Linked DNA regions of Homo sapiens. The protein of the gene in region 1 purifies or fractionates together with the protein of each later gene. This does not show direct contact. Each region holds a gene or a part of one and is shown on either strand. Other genes may lie near its edges.

Region 1 (3,723 bases):
GTTGGAGCTCCTATAAGCTGGACTAGACAGTCTTATAATGAACAATGGTGACGATAACAATAGCTAACATTGACAAGCGTTTAATGCGTTCCAGACACCGGACTGAGACAGAAAAGCCATTATCTCTTGCTCAGTGATGATCCTTAGAGGCAGGCACTATTATTATTTTATCCCCATTTCACAGACAAGCAAACGGAGGCCCAGGAAGATAAGGTCTACGCAGCCAGTCAGGAGTGAGCCTCCCAGATCCGTCTGGTACAGTTCTGCACAAGAGACACTACAGATGCTCTATCAGGGAGGGGTGTGTGTGTGTGTGTGTGTGTGTGTGTGTGTGTGTGTGTGGTGGTTGTTGTTGGTAAGAGACCACTGCCCACCAAGGCCACATCTGGCTTGTCACTGTTGTCACTCTCCCATTCAAGGCCTTACCTGGCAGAGCAGGGAGATATCCACAGGCCCTACGGCCTCTGGGGCATTCGTGTCAGGAAGCGCCTGACAGTTTCCTCCCATCCTTTCCATGTGAACAGGAAGGAAGGCAGCATCTGGACCTGGATGTGTTTAAAACATCCCCCAAACACCCTCTGGGTTGCAGCGAAATCTCAAAAACTCAGAGCAGGGGTCTGAGGTCTTTAGGGATAGAAGGCAAAGCTCCAAAGAGAGTGGCCCAAGGCCACAAAGCCTGAAGCTCCAGGACACCCCAGCACTTCACACCCCTGCCATTCCCCCTGCCTGGCATCCTGGAGAGAAGCACAAGACCCCAGTCTTGCCTCTTGCCACTTACAGGCTGCATGACCTCTAACAAGCCCCTTAACCTCTCTGGGCCTTAGTTTCTCCCTTTGTAAAAGGAAGGAGCTAATTACCCTGGAAGGTCCCTGCCCTCATGCAGGGAAAGGTGGGGCAGTGATGGCATGAAACCTATCATTACCCCATTAATAATCTAATCAACATCGTGGTAAATGCCCCAAAGGAAGCTCCAGGGAGCTCCAAGGTGTCTGACACAGGAGCCTGACCTGGGGAGCTGCTGCTGGGGCTGAGCGCTCAAAGGTGGAGGAAGAAACCAAGGGAAGGAGCCGGGAACTGCAAGCACAAAGGCCGGATGGGAAGAGCAAGAGCACGGGACAGAGGCCGGGGTGTGTCCAGCACCCGCAGAGCTTGGGCGGGGCAGGGGTGGGTGAGGCTGTGGGAGGCAGGACCACACAGGCTGCTCCACCATGGGGTAGGGTCAAGGAGAGGCGGGGAGGGGAGAGGCTGGTGCAACTGACTCGAGCCCAGAAGACCCAAAGCAGGCCTGGGCCCCAACCAGAGTAAAGATGTTCAGCTGATCCAGCCTAGCTAGGGAACCCCAGAATTTTTTTCATAGAGGCTGAGCTTTTCCTTGTGGCTCAGGCAGTGAGAGATGATTCACCTCCATTTGAGAATGAGGGGCCGCCAAAGGTGTCCTTCCATTAGCAAATGTGTATCACCAGTTACTAAGCTGGAGGCACTAGCCTGGGCCATTCAGGGAAGAGTGACACGACGCCGTGGGGGAGGGAAGGGGGGACACAGACAGGGATATACGTTTGGGGGTGCCCAAAATGCAGTGCAGCTCTGTGCATAACACTCAGACTGATGCCCCAAGCCAACACCCACAGAGGGACACCCAGAGCCAAGCACAGCCCCTGTCATCAAGCACCCAGCTTAACCTGGGGTCACGGGGGTCACACCAGAGCCAGATATAACAGGCAAGCGCCAAGTGCTGTCGGGTCCTTCCCAGGAGCCAGACCTGGCTAATGGGACCCACACCTGCACACTTTCTCTTACGGAACCCTCACGGCAACGTGCGGGGCAAGGACATCCACATCCCCATTCTACAGATGACGAGACCGAGGCTCAGAAAGGGAAAGCTCAGAAAGGAAAAGGCAGAGCTGGGATTCCAGCCCAGTCAGCTTGGCTCCAGATCACAGTGCTCTCTCCCAACCACCCTGGACCTCGGAGAACAAAGGGCTGGCCTGCTGCTTCCACCTGCTCTGACCCCTGCTGTGCCTCACTACCGCAAAGCAGGTAGATGCAGTGCTGACTGAGGCCTCCAGTGATGCCAGGGTCAGCCTGGCATGGAGCACCCCAGCTCCAAGTTCCTTCCGGCACCAAGGGGAGTGAACGTGACCATGGATGAGGTCATGCATGTGGGGACTAGGGGAATGACCTCAGTGAAAACCTTGGCTGCTGGGCAGGCCCTTGCTTGAACTTAGCTGCGCCCCTTTCCTAGGGGACTCTCTCTGCCCCGGAGGCTATGCAAGACACGGGGCCTCCTCCCCTCCTCTGTGCCAGGATGGTGCTAGGTGCACAGAACATCTGAGCTGTCAGCCTCCCAAGTGCCCCACTAGAAAGGATCACATCCCCATTTTACAGGAGGAAGACGGAGTCTTGGTGAGGGGTTTGCACAGGGACAGCATGCACACGGAGGAGGTGACACAGTGAGGTTTGGCTCCAGACTTGACTCCAGAGGTGGAGTTGGCCCCTAGACCACACAGCCTGGCTCTCCTCCCTCCCCAGGCCTCTCCGGCAGGGCAGGCCTCAGGCCCAGGGCTGCAGACACATAAAAGGAGGTGGCTGCAGCTTTGCTGCAACAAGACCACTCCCAGCAAGGTGCTCCCTTGGCTTGGCATTCAATGCCCTTCCCAAGCCAGCCCAACGCCCCTTCCCAGACTCTCCCCATCCCTGCCAGCTCCCACCACTCCCTCCAGCTTTTCCGTTTCAAGCCTGTGGTCCACCTCCAGGCCCTGCCTACTGCCTTTCACTTAATTGTACACATATTTATTGAGCCCCTACAACATGGCAGGCACTGTTCTAAGAGCTGGGCACAGAGACAGCCACTTGAGGCTAACTCCCCAGCTCCAAGGACACCTCCTCCTCCAGGAAGTCTGCCAAGTCCCTCCTCTGAGCTCCCATAGCTCCTCTAGCCACCTCTACCCTTGCCTCCATCATTCCCCAGCCAGAATGGGGCACCCTTTATAGATGGGAGTGGCATGGCCCTCTGCAGCCCCCAGCAAGGGAACAGGGGGAGAAGGGGGAGATAGGGCCAGCAGGAAATTCCAAGGAGATTAGAAGGGAGTTGCCCCCGGGCAGTGTTTCTTCTGTGGGCAGCTCGACAATCGGTCCACTTCACTCAGCCCCACTGGCCCTGGGCCCAGGAGCTGGGCATCAGGGACCTGGGGGACTTCGGTGTAGCTTCTTCTGACTTCAAGACCTACCACCCCCATCCACCCACCACCCAGGACCCCAAGACCCCCAGCTCCAGAAGGTTACAAAGTCAAGGCCCTGGCCACACTCCTTAGTGTTCCCAGCAGCCTTGTAGAAGTAAGTCTAGTGAGCCACTGAAAACAGTAGTAGTTTGTACACATTAGCTCCAGGGAGACACAGACCAGGATTTCCTGTTTCTGTGTGTGGATGAAATGTCACAGCGTGTGTGTGTGTGTGTGTGCGTGCGCGCACGTGTGTGCGTGTGTCTAGGTTCCCTGGTTTGAGAGCCTCTGGCTCCTGTGGGCAAATGCTACATGCCTAATGTTTGCATGCCAGACTGTGCTGTGTCCCTGCTGATGTGCATGTGGGAGTCCCCTTGGTGGGTGTCTGTAAGCCTCGGGTAGGTGTGCAAGTCTCTGCTGCTCTCTTTGTAGAAGAGGCAGGGGAGGTACCCGGGTGGTGAGCTTGTGCCTGGGCCAGCCTGGCAAGGGTAGATGTGCAGACTTC
Region 2 (3,723 bases), on another chromosome or scaffold:
CATATAATTTTCATGTAATTCTTTTATTCCCTTAATACCGCATTTTATAATCTATAATTTTTTCTTTTTTTTTTTCTGAGACGGAGTCCTTGCTCTGTCACTGGGCTGGAGTGCAGTGGCGCGATCTCGGCTCACTGCAACCTCTGCCTCCCAGGTTCAAGCAATTCTCCTGCCTCAGCCTCTCAAGTAGCTGGGATTACAGGTGTCCGCCACCACGCCTGGCTATTTTTTTATATTTTTGGTAGAGACAGGGTTCCGCTGTGCTGGCAAGGCTGCTCTCGAACTCCTGACCTCGTGATCCACCCACCTCTGCCTCCCAAAGTCCTTTTTTTTTTTTGAGATGGAGTCCCACTCTGTCGCCCAGGCTGGAGTACAATCGCATGATCTCAGCTCACTGCAACCTCTGCCTCCCGGGTTCAGGTGATTCTCCTGCCTCAGCCTCCCGAGTAACTGGGATTACAGGTGCCCACCACCACGCCCCACCAATTTTTATATTTTCAGTAGAGACGGGGTTTCACCATGTTGGTCAGGCTGGTCTCGAACTCCTGACCTCAGGTGATCCACCCGCCTTGGCCTCCCAAAGTGCTGGGATTACAGGTGTGAGCCATCGCGTCTGGCCTAATCTATAATTTTCTTAGTTATTTGCTAATGTTTCTGTTTTTTCTCACCCATTAAAATGTAAACACCATGAGGGAAGACCTTGTTTAGATTACTGTAACTCTAGGGCCTAACCCATAGTACGAGTGCAATAAATATTTATGTTTTTTTGTGTTTGTTTTGAGACACAGTCTCGCACTGTCATCGGGGCTGGAGTGCAGTGGCACAGTCTCGGCTGACTGCAACTTCTGCCTCCCGGGTTCAAGCAATTCTCCTGCCTCAGCCTCCCAAGTAGCTGGGATTACAGGCACCCACCATCATGCTCAGCTAATTTTTTTTTTTTTTTTGTATTTTTAGTAGAGACGGGGTTTCACCATGTTGGCCAGGCTGGTCTTGAACTCCTGACCTCACGATTTGCCCACCTAGGCCTCCCAAAGTGCTGGGATTACAGGCGTGAACCACTGTGCCCGGCCAGGAGTACAATAAATATTTGTTGAATGAATGAATGAATGAATCAACAAGTCTAATATTTTGAATCCCCAAATACTACAACGATCAGCTGCTCTTTGAAACCTAGTTCTTGAGGCAGCTGCTACCAGAGCTTCCTGGACTGAATGGATCTTACATTACAAATTGTAGGTTCTTTGGAATTCCTTCAACTCTCCCAGAAAAATAAACAACTTCGTTACGACATAAGGACATTACCTTAATATATTCACTTTGAGCATGGTGACTCTCATGCATAACGGGCAACACTTTTCCAATTTTATCTTCTTTCTTCTTACACTGCACCCTATATTGCTTAATCTTTGACATCAAATTATCTTTTTCAAGCATCCATGACTTCTCTTTATTTTGGTTTTCAGATCTGAGTTGCAGAAAATCTTTGGTGCTCTCATAGAGCAGTTCTTGGGTGTGGTGAAGACTAGGAAAGAAAGTATAAATGCAGACATGAGGATGCGCACACAGCACACCTGAAAGCAAGGATTATTCCAAAATGGAAGAGAGTGGTTCTTTTAAAATGGTGTGATATATAAATTTTGTAAAATATTAGCAGGTTTAAAAATCTGATCACTGGCAATCTTACATGTTTTACTGGGTAAAGTATAATGTATCTACCCATGCTCACTGGTTCATAGACTGGTCTTTACAGGTACTTTCCTGAGTGCGAACTTCAGATTATATGATTAGAAGGACTACAGGGATATTTACACATAGCCTGCGTTAACTATGGACCATTCCTAGGAATAAGACAAGGAAGAACTAAATCACGGTGTTCTGACAAGTTAATACAAATTCTATAGTATCAAAAACAGCTTTGCTTTTGTGTATGCTGTGCTCCATGTAGAACTGCCTATATCAAAATCTTATCCTTTGTTTATTTTAAAAAGAACTTTTTTTTTTTTTTTTTTTTAAGACAGGGTCTTGCTCTGTCACGTAGGTTGGAGTGCAGAGGCACGATCACAGCTCACAGCAGCCCTGACCTTCTGGGCTCAAGCAATCCTTCTGTCTCAGCCTCCTAAGCAGCTGGGACCACCTCCCAGGGTGTTTGCCAGCTCATTAAAAATTTGTGTGTGTGTGGAGATGGGGTCTTGCTATGTTCCTTAGGCTTGTCTGGTCTGGAACTCCTGGGCTCATACACTCCTCTCGCCCCAGCCTCCCAAAATACTGGGATTACAAGTGTGAACCACTGCACCTGGCCTACTTTTTTAAAAATCAACTTCCTGTATGAAGTCATTTCCAACAACTTTAGCCTATTTTAATTCCTCCATTCTCTGAAACTCCATCCCAGGTTAATGTTCCCTTGTCTTATAATTCAACACTTGCTCATCTGTCATATTTTAACTGTCAACATGCACTTTTTCCCAGCCTGAGTGAAAGCATATACCTTATTTATTATTTTTGCCCCAATGCCATGAGATTGTCAAGGATAATACTAACTACTGGACATACACAGGCAGTTAACAGATTCATGGTGACTATTTCCTGAAATTTAGGAATAGACAACGTCTCTATCTTTAAAAAACAATATCCCTGGAAGTTAGCAACTCATCAGTTTAACATTACCACCCAGAAAAATGCTATACTGAATGATCTGGCTGCTTGCAAGAGTATTAAATACCATGAAGCAATCACTGTATTTTTCTACCAAACAAATAATGTGAGATCCACTTATTTTCATGAGTAACAGAGTGCACAGATAAGAGGAAATGACAGCAGAGTGCCAAGCACACAGTAGAGTAAATGTCACAAGGTGAATATATACAGTCAGGTATGTGTGCATGTGTATGTAGAGAGAGATTGATTCAATTACCACAAGGGTCTCTCTCACTTTCAATGAGTTATTTTATTCTGTCTTACATTATCTTCTCAATCTCAAACTGGGAAACTATAGGCTTGTTAAAATACAAGTAGCTTGAAAGTGATACCCAAAGGGCAGTCATTAACGGCCCTGGATTTCATGCCCTTCTTAGGAAGATCCATCTAATGGAAGGAACCGATCATGTGCTCAGATATGCAGATAACGCTAAACAAGGAAGGTTACTGGTATTCTGGAAAACAGATATAAAATTACAAATTACTATGACAATATTAAAATATCTGTTCCTTAAAAACAAAACCCATTGAAATGTCAAGATGCTATACTTAAGTGCAAAAATACTAAAAATAAAAATGAAGGTGGAGAAATACTGGCCAAATGCAAACACATTATACTATGTTAAAAGAAACATAGCAGACCGGGCGCGATGGCTCCCGCCTGTAATCCCAACACTTTGGGAGGCTGAGGTGGGCAGGTTACCTGAGGTCAGGATCGAGACCAGCTTGGCCAACATGGTGAAACCCTGTCTCTACTAAGAAGGAAATCCCAGCACTTTGGGAGGCCGAGGCGGGCAGATCACGAGGTCAGATCGAGACCATCCTGGCTAACACGGTGAAACCTTGTCTCTACTAAAAATACAATTAAAAAAAAAAAATTAGCCGGGCGTGGTGGTGGGCGCCTGTAGTCCCAGCTACTCAGGAGGCTGAGGCAGGAGAATGGCATGAACCCGGGAGGCGGAGCTTGCAGTGAGCCGAGATTGTGCCACTGCACTCCAGCCTGGACGACACAGCGAGACTCTGTCTCAA
Region 3 (3,500 bases), on another chromosome or scaffold:
CCCAGCATCCACCCCCGGGCTGTCCCACGCTCTCACCAGCAACCTCTCTGCATGGTCGTGTTTATTTCCAAGGGGAGCTGACAAGGCAGGGGAGCCCTGCGGGTGCATCCAAGGCCTGCCTTTGACTTCAGCGCCCGGTACAAGGATGGGAACCAGTGCTCAGCCAGTGTGACGCGTTACTTGGACTCGAAGGCACACTTATTTCCGAGACTGAGCTGTCTAACATTACCATGAAAAGCCCTGGGCACAACACCCTTTCCCACACTCAGGAGAAACTTTGCTAAATCTCCAGCTACTAAAGATACAACGGGCCCACCCAACTATGGGATGGTACCTGTCACCGCCCTGGGGCTTTTGGAAGACTGCTGGTGATTTGAGGAACTCGCTCCTAAATGCAGGCTAACTGCCCTCCATTCAGGTCCCCGGGTCTTCCCCTAGGAGTCCCAGGCACAGCCCCACCACACCTGGAAGGAGTCCTCTCTGAACCGCAGCAGCTCCGGGTGGTCGCTGTGCAGGTGGAATGTCCTCCGGGAGGGGTAGGGGTTGGTGTAGGTGATCCTCTTGTTGACACCCTTCCCTTCGCCCGCAGCCAACATGATCTCAAAGGCCTGTGGAGGGAGGGGACAGGGAGACGCTGCGGCCACTCACGGGAACAGCCACTGGCCCTTCCTCCAAGTATTCCCTGAGTCTCCTGTGCACCGTGCACGGGGACCCCCACAGAGATAAGACAGACGCTCTCTGGAGCTTCCATCCGGGAGAGACACAGCACAGGAGCAAACACTCATGCACCCGGCCCTGCTGGGTCAGAACACTGTATCCAGTGGTCCGAGTCACAGGGCCGAGGTGGGGGTCCTGCAGTGCCCTGGTATTGAGCCCCCATCCCCTCAGCCTGTGCCTGCCACACATACAGACCTTGGAGATGAGCGGCTGGCGGCAGCAGAGGCACACGAGCCAGGAGGCCACCAGCTGGTGGCAATCCACGTCCACCAGGTTGAGATGGACAAAGCGGCTGCCGGCCCTAAGGGGCCTCACGCCAACATGCAGGTCCTGCACCCCACGAGGCGGCAGCACGAAGACACCTTTGGGGTCTGTCTTCAAGAGCGAGAGAGGCGGGTCAGAGCACAGCCTCTCAGGATGTGCAAGCAAGGGGCTCCTGGGCGCCTGCAGCCCAATCAGCCAGGGGAGCCCAAGGTCATGGGTGGTTCCGGGGCGGCCAAATCTGAGGCCACAACCAACCCTGACATGACTGTGGCCGCGACTTGGGTCCACACCAGGCAAGTCCCTCCTCTCACACGGCGACTATTCCCTAAGCGCTGCCTCCGCAGACAGAACTGAAGCCATCTTGGGCTTAAAACCCCGGCCAGCTGGTGGCACCAGGGGCCGCCCTCCCACCCCGTCTAACTGTGGCTTCACTAACACCAGAGCTCCTGTCACTGTTCACCTTGCCAGGAATTCTGAACACCGGCCTTTGGGGTTGGTGTGTACGTCACTCACCCCACAATGGCACATCTAACGAAAGGCAACTGCCGAGAGGCCTCTGGTAACAGCGTCTGCGCGCTGGAGGCGCTGGAAAAGCTGCTGTCAGGGCCACCCACTGTGCTCCAGCTGAATGCCCACTGCCCGTCTCCAGGCTGGGGTTGGGGAGAGGCTCAGAACAGCCCCCAGAGAGGCCGTACCTTCAGCTCCTGGGGATGAGAGGTGAAAGCTCTCACTTTCCTCACTGTCTGTGTCCCCCGAAGGACAAGGGACAGGCGGGTCAGCTGGCCTGCGACGCAGGAGACATCCACGCGCTGCAGGGAGTGGAGGTAGACCTGCCACGTCTGTGTGGGTGTCGCCAGCCAGCGATCCCTGCAGTGGGATGGGAGCCATCTGCACTTGTCCCGGAGGACTCAGCACCGGCCCACGAGAGGCCAACAAGGGCTGCCAGGAGCGTGGGCAGACAGGAGGCTGTGCAGGGAAAGCCCCAGAGGACCAGGCCACAGGAGGCAGAGCTGGGGCCACGCAGGGAAAGCCCCGGAGGACCAGGCCCCAGGAGGCAGAGCTAGGGCCTGGTGGCTCCACCCCTGGCTGCCCATCTCCCACCCACAGCAGAGGCTCTCAGGGCGCAGCAGGGCTGCTTAGGAACCACATGTCAAACAAATGACAAGGCACGCTTTGGCCAAACACACATCCTGGACAAGTGTCCACCCCCAATAGGGGTTCTGAGGCTAAGCCAAGGGCAGCGCCACGCAGGAGACAGGGTGGGGCTGGAGGTCATGCCGGCCTGAGCACGGAAGCCCCTGTTAGCATTTTAGGGCCAAGAGCCTGCTGCTTCACAGTCAAATGGGGCTGGGTGAGGCATCTTCATGGGCTCACGAGGAAGCCACTCTGAGACGTGGTCACGTGGCCCCTCTGTGGTGGGCACTGAGTGCAGGTTAGCCCCTGCCCCATCCTCAGAAGCACTGCAGGAAATCTCCGAGCTCACACCAGTTTGAAAGGATTCTCACAGGGCTTGGGGATCCGACTTAGGAGGGGAGGGGAAAGGGGCCGGGTCATTTAGCCTGGAGGAGAGAGGGATGGGCATTTCCACCACAGTCCTGCCTCTCCGCAGGAGGGACCACAGCTTCATTCATGCTGTTCAGCCTAGGGACTCAGCAAGAAAAAGGTAATGAGGGGCTTCTGGGTGGCCCTTGCCACTATCTGGGGACAGAGGCTGACTGGTGTCTCTCCTTGGTGGCAGGAGCTGCATCCCAAGTCCCTCAGGCTGCACGTGCCCCTCCAAGGTGCCTTCCCTAGACCCCTGCGGGCCCTGAACTCGCAGCAGAATCCCGCCTCACAAAGCGAAGGCCCGAAAGCTCCCCCAATTTTAGGAAGGGGCCAAGCCCACTTTCAATCCACCAGCAGCCCCAGGCCTGCCTCCTCCTCTCCTCCGCCACCGCCTCCAGGTCCCCAAAGCCTGTGCACTTACGAGTAAATGATGACAAAGAAGTCTTTGATCTCCGGGCTTGGACCACTGGCCACCTTCAGAAATATGTCCCGTGGTTCCCCGGGGCCCTGCCAACCAGATGTGCAGCACATCAGGGCACACAGTGCTCTGCCGACCCCAGCCTGGCCCCTAAATCTGTGACTAATACACGCAGCGAGTGACGGCCAGTCCCTCCCAGAACGCATCTGTTCATGTTCTATACCAATCGGAATTCACTATTCTGTTCACTGCCAAAGAGAAGATCATTAGCTTCCTGATTTTACATGGATCTCAACAATTAGATTCTACAGGAGATTTTATCCGGTTTCCTAACTGGTCATAACACAATTATTGCCTTATCCTTTACATAATGGTAATTAATAAGTGCCTTAATTACCATCCACTTTATTAACTTTGCTTCGTGCCTTTTTAAAATTTAAATTCAGATGATCAAGGAGCTGATCTGCTAGTAGAAAAAATAAAAACACACTCATAAAGCTCTCATAAGGATGTCAAAATAGCCCTTTAGTACCTTGGGAAAGAAACCACTTAGCAG

Evidence for each region.
Region 2: the proteins of MTCL2 (region 1) and CCDC77 purify together in Homo sapiens (affinity purification with mass spectrometry; one large-scale study listed by BioGRID and IntAct). This does not show direct contact.
Region 3: the proteins of MTCL2 (region 1) and NPHP4 purify together in Homo sapiens (co-immunoprecipitation; one large-scale study listed by IntAct). This does not show direct contact.

Annotation. Positions count from the first base shown.
Region 1 is NC_000020.11:36,853,402-36,857,124, forward strand, and holds part of MTCL2 (microtubule cross-linking factor 2), read right to left. Parts: intron 1-3,723. UniProt on the Homo sapiens protein: Microtubule-associated factor that enables integration of the centrosomal and Golgi-associated microtubules on the Golgi membrane, supporting directional migration. Preferentially acts on the perinuclear microtubules accumulated around the Golgi.
Region 2 is NC_000012.12:436,134-439,856, reverse strand, and holds part of CCDC77 (coiled-coil domain-containing protein 77), read right to left. Parts: intron 1,523-3,723; coding exon 1,303-1,522; intron 1-1,302.
Region 3 is NC_000001.11:5,863,426-5,866,925, forward strand, and holds part of NPHP4 (nephrocystin-4), read right to left. Parts: intron 3,034-3,500; coding exon 2,948-3,033; intron 1,849-2,947; coding exon 1,677-1,848; exon of another isoform or gene 1,099-1,676; intron 1,093-1,098; coding exon 913-1,092; intron 609-912; coding exon 465-608; intron 1-464. UniProt on the Homo sapiens protein: Involved in the organization of apical junctions; the function is proposed to implicate a NPHP1-4-8 module. Does not seem to be strictly required for ciliogenesis. Required for building functional cilia.